Linked DNA regions of Homo sapiens: region 1 is linked to region 2. The links come from fine-mapping of genetic effects on gene expression. Tissue or cell type: fibroblasts. Region 2 holds a variant in brackets; the other region holds the start of a gene. All regions are shown on one strand. Distances are from middle to middle.

Region 1 (5,390 bases), 68 kb after region 2:
CCTCGGCTAGAGGTACTACTCTTTAGAGAATACTGCAACAGTATTGTGCATATATAAATACAGCTCTGTTCCTGAAGGCAGCCAGAAGAAACATCCAGGAGAGGATCATCTTGAAATGTCATTTCAAGCCTATAGATCACATCATAGTCGTTATCAGTAGGCAGAATTAGATTTCGCGATCAGCAGCTATCTTCATCTGGCTTGTCTGACTACAACTCTCCGTTCTTTCAATAGTGTGCAAGAAAAAGCATCAGTCATAGGATACTAGTTCAGACACTATCCCAGCAAAACTTACCAATGGTTTTAAATTGTTAAAACAATTTAAATAATTGTTTTATTACACAAATGATTTTTATAATCTTCCCAGTCATAACTTGAGCTTTGCTTACCAGTAGGACAAGAAAGTATGAAGCAAAGGCATTGCCACCGCTCAACTCCAACTACATAAGTTTCTAGATTTAAAAAAATTTTGTCAAATTTTTATCAGTGCTCTTAACCTAATTTTCTTCCTCTTTAGCTACATAAAGATTTCAGGTAATAATAGTTGACTCTAGAGTATTAGGGAACTGCTTGCAAATTTGCTCCAACCATATTCTTCTATTCTTCATATAGACTTTTCGTTTTCTTTCTCATTGCTGTCAAAAATTTTTAACCACCCTCATGTATGCACTATTGTAGCAAATATATTCCCTGCATTATATTTTACTCAGTGATTCACAAGGTCACATGTAGACTTTATGCACAGGGATACTATGTATGTGTGTGGCATGGATCGCCTATAACAAATTGGGCACTCCAACAATGCCAAAAAATATTAAGTAAGCCTTTATACCTGGAGATCCCCGTGATGAGTAGAAAATTAGCCAAGACTATTCCAATGACATTCTTGACGTGTTTTATTTTTGGTAAAAGCATGAAGATTTGGTGGATTAGAGAAAGAGTAGCACAATTTAAAACTGAAATTATAGGATAAGAGTAGTCCTTGGTTACCCATTTTCTAAAGACAGAGGATTTCAGAATTACTTTGTTTTTCACAATTGTTATTTCACAAATTTTGAAGCTTCTTCTCCTATGGAATATATGCTAGCCTATGGACGTATCCAGATTAAAATCTTACATTCTCTTTTAGGTAATTTCTGTTTTGTCAATAATTTTTCTTGGAGAAAAATGTACTAATACAGTGTTTTCTCCAATGATCCTCCAACTAAGTCTAACATTTTTGTGTAATATATGCTTTCTGTTTGAGGGATTTCCACCCCCCCCCACCCCCCACTGCCCCACCACCACTGTAAAAATCTGGTCAATGCAAGAGGACCTGGTTAGGTACCCCAACATTTTTAACATTAATTATTTCTGATTTATTTTCTAGAAAAGACCTTCAGTATTCTGCTTGCATTCATGTTTATTTGGTCATTTGCTTTACAATGGACTGGTCCTTGCTGACCTGTTTTTAAAAGAGTTGGTTATCTGCAATTTGAGCAACCAGTTGAAGTTGTTTTATAAAAGTTTTAAGCCTTCATTTTCTGCCAGTGAACACAATGCTGCTTGGTTTCTAAGTATAGAGCCATCTATGTAAAAATCGCCACTTTAAAATCACAAGAAAGAGACTGTTCAGCAAGTGGAGGAGATTATTGCAGCAGGAAGAAACTGAGGGGACCCTCCATGTGGCACCCACTGAAGAGTATTTGAATGTTTATCATATCATCAGTGTGGCCTAGGCTGTTGCCTAGCAGTTATCTAGAGACCTACTTCACGTTTTATTTTAATTTAATAAGGTAAATCGAAGACTTTTGTTTGCTTGCTTGCTTGTTTAGTTCACAGATTAGGAATAAATCTGGACTGGAACTTGTAACAATTAACTAGGGCATTTGAAAGTCCAAGCCAGCCTCTTTATGAATTACATTTTGAAAAGACAAGCTGCTATCTCATTGGTAACTTTCAGGAGACCACTCTTGGAATTAAATTTAGAAAACATTTATCAGTTATGTTGCCCAAAATCACAATGGACAGGGCACTTTCTGCATAGCTAATACACAAGCGGCATCCGCCTGCAAATCACAGAGCACCCCTACTATAGCATAACTAGGACAGGAGTCAGGGAGACGAACCGATTTAACATTTCATGGAGAATTCAAAGCTATGCTTCTCTAACTTTCCTCCCCATTTCTTCCCAGCTTCCCTTCCCCCGCACCACACACCCAGAAGCCACTCAATTTGCCAACCATGTCCAGTTTAACTTACTGCAGTGTGATGCAGGCGAAAGCTGAGCGCATCTCTGAAGCGAGAGCCACTGCTTTTCCGGAGAGGAACTGGGACTAGCCAGTTCTCAGGATCCTTTCCAATTCACACGCTCCCGGCACAGTAAGAAGGCTCCCACACAGCTCGGCTTCCCCAGAGGAGTGGAGCTTCAAGAACTCTGCTCACAGCATCCTCCTCCCCACTGCCACCCCCTTCCAGAACACCCGGCCCATTGGAACTAGTGTCTGAAAGATGGAAATCTACTTCCAGGCAGCAACACAGGCTGCCTGCAGTTCACCCGTCTCTGATCATTTGCAACTAAAAAACAGCGGAGGCTGAAAGACGTAGGTTTCCGGAGCCTGAAAGTCATCTTTGGCGTCCCCCTTCCCCACCTCTCACTCCTCCCACTTCATCCCCGCTCCTCTATCGCGTCCACCCCCAGTCCTCCAGACTCCCACTCAAGCTAGCTATCACAAATGATTATTTTATCATCCAAACCAGTAAGCAGCTGAAGGAAACAATTTGTCAGAGATGAAATACCTGTTGTCCATGACTAACGCTCTTCTTCAGTCTCTCTTAGTCCTTGATTTATGTCAAGACGCGTTGATATTGGAAGTCTGTGCAGTGTGTGTGTGTGTGTGTGTGTGTGTGTGTGTGTGTGTGTGTTGAGGAGGAGGCGATTTGCGCGGCTGCAAGCACCAGCCCTGCCTATCTCTGGCTGCCGCTTCTCCAGCTGCTATTGCTACTCTTGCTGATGGAGCTCAGGGGAAAATGAGACAGGGAGACAAGGCTATACAGCTGTTTAACTGCTGGTCCAGTTATAAGACAGGGGAGGAGACGGTGCAGGTGAGAGGCTGTTGAGACAGTGAGCTGGATTCACTGCAATTACTACCACTCACTATACATCTCAGGGAGGAAATATGATACCCGTCTCCCCTCTCCCTTCTACAACTGTAGTCCTTGGTGGGTCATTGTTCAGCAACCATCTGCCGAAGCCACTTCTACCAATTGTAGCAGCTGCAGACGCTCTTGCTGCATTCCGGCTTGGTAACCTCGGAGCAGGTGACTGGAGGATGGATGAAGTAGAAAGGCAGTTAAATATTGGGAGAAACTCTATGTATGTGTAACCAATCAGGGCACAGATAAAAATAACAATTTTGAGGCACGTGTGTAAAATAGTGTATTAGGGTAAGAAAAATGTAAGTAAGTCAATAATCAAGATTTTTGTGGACTGTGTACAAAACCAGACAGTTATTAAGCAGTGTGCTTACCAGCTTATACACGGGGTATCTTGACATAGAAGTCCCGTGGTTGCTCTTAACTTATCTATATAATATTCTCAATGATTTCAATGCATTAACATCTCTCTGTCAGCTACAGACTCTGGTAAAACCAACTTGATTCTGTCTTCTATTAACTTTCATTTGCTCTCCTTATTGGCTGCTCTCATTAATCTCCAACATATTCTCATAAAAAATATGACATTCGGCAGAACTTAGAAATGGAAGACGTTCTCAAATCCCCCAAAGAATAGAATACTTCTTAATTACTAGTAACATTTGCTCTAGTAATAGTCTGTCTTCACTTTCTTGTTCTGTAGATTGAGTAATCATGAACAACCCCTCCTAAATACACACACACACACACACATCACTTAATTGAATAGTACTTTTAATCCACTTTCAGCCTCCAGTTGTCTGAGCTAAAAATAAACTTAATTCCTTTTGATTTTATTTGTAATGCACGCCTTTAATTATTTCTGCCTCTGAGTACTTTTCATATTGGCCATATTTTTTCCCAGTTGTTAGGGCTTGTGTAATCAGGGTTAATCAGGGTTAAATTAAACAGAGGGGGAACACGGAAGAAAGAAAATATAAGAAAAGACCCAGAAGGAAGAAAATAACCCAAAAGGATTAAATAATACATCTTTCCCTGATGTGTTTATACTGCCTTTAGCTAAACAAAGACCAGTTAATGAGCAAAGCATTTATCAATTATCCAACAAATATCAATTTGCCAAAGCCAGCCTAACTTCAATTTTAACAGATTTTATCAGAGGCTAATATTTTGTTTTAAAAATCATATAATACCTTAAATGCGAATAGCATCCAGAATTTTTTAACGTCAAAATTCTAATTAAACATGATGCCAAATAGCTATTTTTCTCTTCATTTGTTGTCTGTCCATTAAATAATTATTGTATCACACAATTAATATTATTAACAGTCTGAAGAGTACCTTTTTTATACTTGTGTACACTGCAGTGTAAGGAAGTAGGCACAAGAAGTCTCTAGCACATAGAAATACATTTTGATACAAAAGGCCAACTTTATCCACAAATGGTATGATTTTAAACTTGCCCTGCTCAACAAATTCATCCCTTACTATAACTAGCAGGATCTTGCCATTTGTAGTTTAGCAGGGTTTTCTTTTTGATCTTTTTGGTTATTGTTTTTTGTTTTACCTTTACTCCCATTTTGAAATTAAATCATATTTAGGAAGAGCACTAACACTCTAAACATTATTGAGAGACATAATTTATTAGCTATCTTCATTATAAATAAGAAGGAGTCTAAACATCTGGTCTGGGTAGAGCTGGAAGAACTACAAGATGTTAAAATAATTGGTAATGAGTATTTAACATCCATCTTGTTAGTTTTTTTTTTTTTTTTTTTAACAGCTTATAGCATTACTAAGATTCACTTTAAGAAAAAACCACTCTCTTAAAACTACAAGGTTTGGTAATGGAGGAAGAAAATTTTCAGTTAAGGATTGGTGATTGAATCTTATTCCTGACTCATAACTCAAGATTTTCCATTTTGTGGTAAAACTTACAAATCACTCCCTTACAACACTGTGCCCATTTCTCCAAGATGCTTCTCTGCTCCCATCACTAGATTTTCAGAAACTTCATGGGAATCTGTTTATCATTCATCAATCTAAAAAATAAGAGAAAAATGAACTTGCTCTATACTCATTCCTCAACATAATCATCAATTTGTGAAAATATATAGAAACGAATCATATTAATTTTCATCTACATCTCCTTCATCATCAAAACAAGTATTCCCAAACTAAATTTTGTAATTTAATGATAGTCATTTACTGAAGAGAACCCAAAAGTTTGCAAACTGTACAACAGCAAAAGCAAG
Region 2 (5,390 bases):
CTCTATTTACACTGTTTACTTTAGTTATAATCCTTCCACTTTGTTTTCATGGTGAAATTATATAAAGAGTAGCTTACATGTGTTCTCTCTGTCTTTCCTGTTTTCCATCCATTTCATCTATTATTGTTTTTTAAAAAAATCCATATTAAAATCACCAGTGGCATTCTAAATGATAAAGACTCGGGATGCGTTTTGGTTATTATCTCAAGTTCAATCTCATTTTTTGAAAACATGTTTCTTCTTTGGATTGTGGAATACTTTCAATCACTTATTCTCTTCTTTCTTTCTGGTTACAATTTCTCAGTTGTTTTCATGGAGATCTCATCTTCCAACTGTCTTATAAATAAATCTTTCTAGAGTTTCATCTCCATCCTTCTCTCCTTGCTCAATCTGCTTCCACTAAAACATCTCATCTATGCCCATGATTTGATAACTACTCACAATGCAAAGGCACACCCATTCTATATGTCTGGCTCTGATTTCTTTCTTGAGCTCCAGATATGTATTTCCAAGTATCGAATTTATATCTCAATCTGATAACCTGTGAACTTAAGGTTCAATATGTCCAAAATCAAACCACTCTACTTTCCCTCTAAATTATTTCTTTTTGTTTTCCTTTCCTGGATTGGGTGAGCCACACTGACTTACTTCTAAAAGCTGAAATGCCCCATCCTTCTTCCTTAGTCTCCATATTCAGTTGGTGATTGAATTCGGTTCATTCTGCCTCTAGATACTCCCTGTAACATGTGCTTATCTCTCTGTTAACAATGCCTTAACCTTCATGGAACCCCACATATTCAATAGGCTGCCCTAGTAAAATAATCTCCTAATAGGTTTTTAGTCTCCTTTTCATCAAAGATACAATTTATTTACTTCTTTCTGAAATTTAAATCTTACAATTTTGCTATCTCCAGAATTAAAATCTTCAATATCTTCAGATATTTTACTACCTCCAAAATTAATATTGAAGATATTGATTTATGTTTATGTCTTTATGAAGATTTATGTTTGTTTTTATGTTTATGTTTGTGTTTTTATGAAGATTGATTTGTTAATAAATAGGTTCTTAATCATGTTTCAGGAATAGGAAAAGCTAGACTCCAGGATTTGGATTTTAACATCTCCACAAGGAAAGGGGAGAGGGGCTTGACTTCTTCTCAGGAGTGTATTCATTTCATTGTTAGGCAATGTTGATGGATAATATTTTATCAATGGCATCTAAAGACCCACTTTTTGTGACTATTGCTAAATTCTTCAGCCTTACCTTCAGTGCTTAGACTCATGCCCATGTACACACATGCATGACATGCATGCTCATACACAAATATGTCTATACACCAACACACACATCAAGTTCTTCCCTGATATGTAACAGTCATTCCTGCTTCTCCACATGCTCTGATAACTGCTTGGAGTTTCTTTTCTTCCCCCACCTCTACTCAATACTTTCTATTCAAATTAAAACCCCATTCCACTCTCAACTTCTATCCATATGCGCAGAGTTAAAATCTCTCCAAGAATCTTGCATACGTAACATTCAGAGAATGCATTTCATTGCTTTGTCATCATTTGCCACTGGATCTGTCTCTCCGAACAGGCTGCTGAATAATGAATACAGTTAAGTTCCTCTAGCTTGTGTACTCTATTTATTATTTACTGTGGCACTTCCTATAATAATGTGGAAAGTGGTAACTAAGGAAACTTGGAAAATTCTAGTGAATCACAACCTGTAAACCATCACTGAGTTAAGGATAAAGTATCAACTTAAGATACATAAGCCTTAGTGATAATTTTTGTTATAAATTGTTATAATAATATTACTAACAAAAATAAGAGCTATCATTTTATAGGTAGGGATTATTATCTTCAGTATAAACTGAGGGGATGAAATGAAAGTATAAAGAAATTGTGATGACTTGGCTAATGTCCCAAGGTAAATGGTAGGTTCTATTTTACTCCTGTGATAATGGCCAAATTAGTAGTTTTCACCAAATAGCTCAGTTCTCCCCTGGCACTGGGCAGATGGAAGAAATGCTACTCCCTTGAAGTTAAATATGGTCATGTGAATTGCTTAGGCCAAAGAAATATTAGCGTATCACTTGCAGGGAGAAGGTATCAGAGCCAGCACACAGTCACGAGTGCTCTCTCTCTCTCTCTTTCTCTCTCTGTCACAGCAACTGCCAATTTTTAAAGCTCATGGCTGCTCCATCTGACTGGGACTTCACTGTAGACAATGTGAGATGAAACCACTTGCTGACTCAGATTGGAAATGTAATATGAGCAAAAAATGAACTTCTGTTGTGTTAGCCCACTAAGACTTCGTACATTTTTCAGACATGGCATGATTTGGCTCACTTTGACCAACATTCCACAGATGCCATTACTTCAGTATCAATGTTTGCTTGACCATAAATTGGACTCA[A/G]ATGGATTTTTTGGGGGGAGGTCAAGTCTGAAAAGAGCTTACCCAAAGTTTTGCATCTTTAGGGTACGAAAATTATGGGAGTTTAGACGTTCATAGTTACTTTTTTCTTTTACTATTGCAAAACTTAGGTATTGAAAGATTTAAGACATATGGACACAGAGAAGCCACCAACAGGAAATTGTGTCTGAAGCAGTACAACAAATAGGAACCAGAGCCAGAGATGAGGCAAAAGAATATATGAAGCCAACATATATTCTAGAAATATAATCTGGGTCAGAGCCAGGAACTGCTGAGTTAATCAGTGTGAATCAGAAGAAAGAGTCAGAAATGAGAGACATGCACTACCTAAAACAGTTGCAGATTCAAGTTTCAGACCAAGTGTCAGGGTAAAGTCAAGACATTTCTGGTAAGTCAAAACATTTCAGATAAGTGTTTTAACTGAAAAGGCTTAAATATTTTAAAAGTCCACATTTCATATTCAACTGCCTCAGCCACCACTATCACAATCCTAATTATAACAGTAATATATTAAATTCCAAGCACTTCACATACATTTCCATATTTAATCAGCAAGGCAACTCCATGAGGAAACTGAAGTATACATCACAGCACTAGCCTTCAAACCCAGTTTTGTCTGACATCAAATTATGTGTTCTCAGACACTGCGAAATGGCCCTGTGCCATTTATCCTTCTGTCTCATACAAAGAGGGTAATTATCAATAAGTGGCTGGGCTTCCCAAAATAGAGCCAATCTAACACAGGGCTCAGGACAGAAGTAAAAGCTAATCTCAGCATGACAAACGGGCAAGAGGGCTAGCGTGTGATCTAAATTTGCCTAAAAATAAATTGACTACACACCTGTGAGGAGGTCAAGTCTCTCTCTCTCTCCCCTTTCAGGACCGAGATATCGTATTATCTGAATCCTGGATTCTAGCTTTTCCTATTTTGGAAACATGACTAAGAACCTGTTTATTAACATATCAATCTTCATGAAAAACATAAACAAATTATTCCTGTTTTGACCTTTGTTATCACTTATTGTGCCACAGTTCTGGTCCAGCTACTCTGCCATAAACAGCAATAATTTGTCTCCCTCTGAGGCTTACTGCGAGGATTAAATGAGTTAACACTTGTATACTATTTACAGTAAGGCACTGAAAATCCATTATTTAGTATGACGCTGATTATAGTCTCATTAAATCCTACAACAAGATTTTGAGGTGGGATTCTACTTTTTCAAGTGAGAAAGCTGAGGCTCAGGTAGTTTATGTTACATTACGAAGGCCATACCACTAATAAGTAGAAAACAGGGCTGGGATTCCACACCGTCAAATATTTGCCTGCAAAACCAAAGCTCTTTCCACTAAGTCACACCACATGCCTCACTGCAATGGAAGAAACTGCACACCAGGTCCAAACATTATGCACATTCGTCCTTATTGAAAAGAACAAATTCACTGTAATTTTGCAACTCCTCACAATGCCAGCTGCTATAAACTGTATGAAATTTATGAAAGTTTGGAAAGGTTCCCACCATAATAACATAGTATTTTTCGAAAATAATTTGCATGCTATATAACACACATTATATATAGCAAATAAAAAGCTAACCCTAAGTGACAATACGTGGGCAGATAATGAATCATTTGGAAATATCACGTAGATTTCACATAGAAAATATTGTTATCCATGAAAAGCCCAGGAGTTTCTTAACCCTTTGCTGTGACGTGGAACCACAGCAGAAAGCACCGACAGACCAATAATGTGATAAGCTTAATTCTCTAAAGGGCAGGAGTGAGAGCTTTCTATCCTATAACAACAGTTTGGATGACTTTATATCAAGAGTGAGGAAGAAAATTATACTCCTCTCCCACATATCAAGGGAAATGCTTCCCATGGAGTGACTCAGCCTGAAACCCTAAACCGGAGCACGGTCACAGCATGCTGTAGGCAGTCACAGCAGGCTCCGTATCAGCTGCCTTCGGCATTTGTAGGGACAACACAGAGCGGAGGCTGCCAATTACACCAGAAGCTTCTACCTTGTGAGAAGAGTCTAATCTAGTGGAAGAAAAACAGACACTGACTCTTCATGCTCCAAACTGTGGCTCTTTTCTACTTGATCATCAACAATATGTTCAAACAGCCAGAAGAACACACTCCCTCTCTAGTAAGATAATAATTGTAAACAGTCATATCACTAGCAATTTGCCAGGCACGGCTCTCATTACTTCATATATACTAATTCATACTTCATATATACTGATTCATTCAACTTAATACTTATAGCACTGGACATATTTTTTTCCATATAAAACACAGATATATTAAGTTACCCAAAGTCAGATATCTGAAGTATGGTAGGATCAGTATTTAAACACAAGCTGTCTGGTATGCTAGATACCTATCCAAGAATACTGTGCCAGTATCACCCTACTTATCCTTAATTATTTTTAAGAAAAGCCTAGCATTTAGGAGAACAATCATAGTTACAGGGTGCATTCTGGCAATTGTGGAGGAAATGTAAAATCAGATAACTTGAGACAATTATCTTTATGGTATTCTCTAGGTCCAACATTGAATGATTTGGTTTTGCTGGAATTGGTGTCCCATGAGCTCACTCATCTTGCCCAATAGTTCCACAGCCCCACCTTATTCCAAGAAAGCAAATAAAATACTTATTTGATATATACCAAATATAATCTTAGCATGTTGCAAATTTAACTTTAAATCAATAACTTGATTTTTTATACTTCTTTAATGTACATAAAGAAATTCTTATTAAAAGATACAAATCAAACTCAAGAAAGTGAATGCATTGTATCATTTTTCTAATAGAGTATGGAGGAATGTCACTTACCAATACTGCATTGCAACATGAAAAATCTAATCTTTAAAGCCCCCGATAAACTGATCATGCATATTGAACAGCATGAAAAATGAATGACTTCTATAATCTTCAGGATGATG

Which allele goes with the higher level. Alleles are on the strand shown, and positions count from the first base shown. SD is a standard deviation of normalised expression in the study named.
As copies of G replace A in region 2, the expression in fibroblasts of the gene that starts at base 2,401 in region 1 goes up (large effect, 1.0 SD a copy in GTEx).

The links.
Region 1: DGKB starts here. The variant in region 2 is fine-mapped to the expression of DGKB in fibroblasts (GTEx, PIP above 0.99).

The regions. Positions count from the first base shown.
Region 1 is chr7:14,900,351-14,905,740 of GRCh38, forward strand. It overlaps DGKB (diacylglycerol kinase beta), which reads right to left and starts at 2,401. Exons shown (of 26, transcript NM_001350709.2): 1 at 2,242-2,401.
Region 2 is chr7:14,832,392-14,837,781 of GRCh38, forward strand. All of the region lies in intron 2 of DGKB (diacylglycerol kinase beta), which reads right to left. Among named protein-coding and RNA genes, the nearest start is that of DGKB, 68 kb to the right of the region's middle. The variant A/G (reference allele first, on the strand shown) is at 2,423.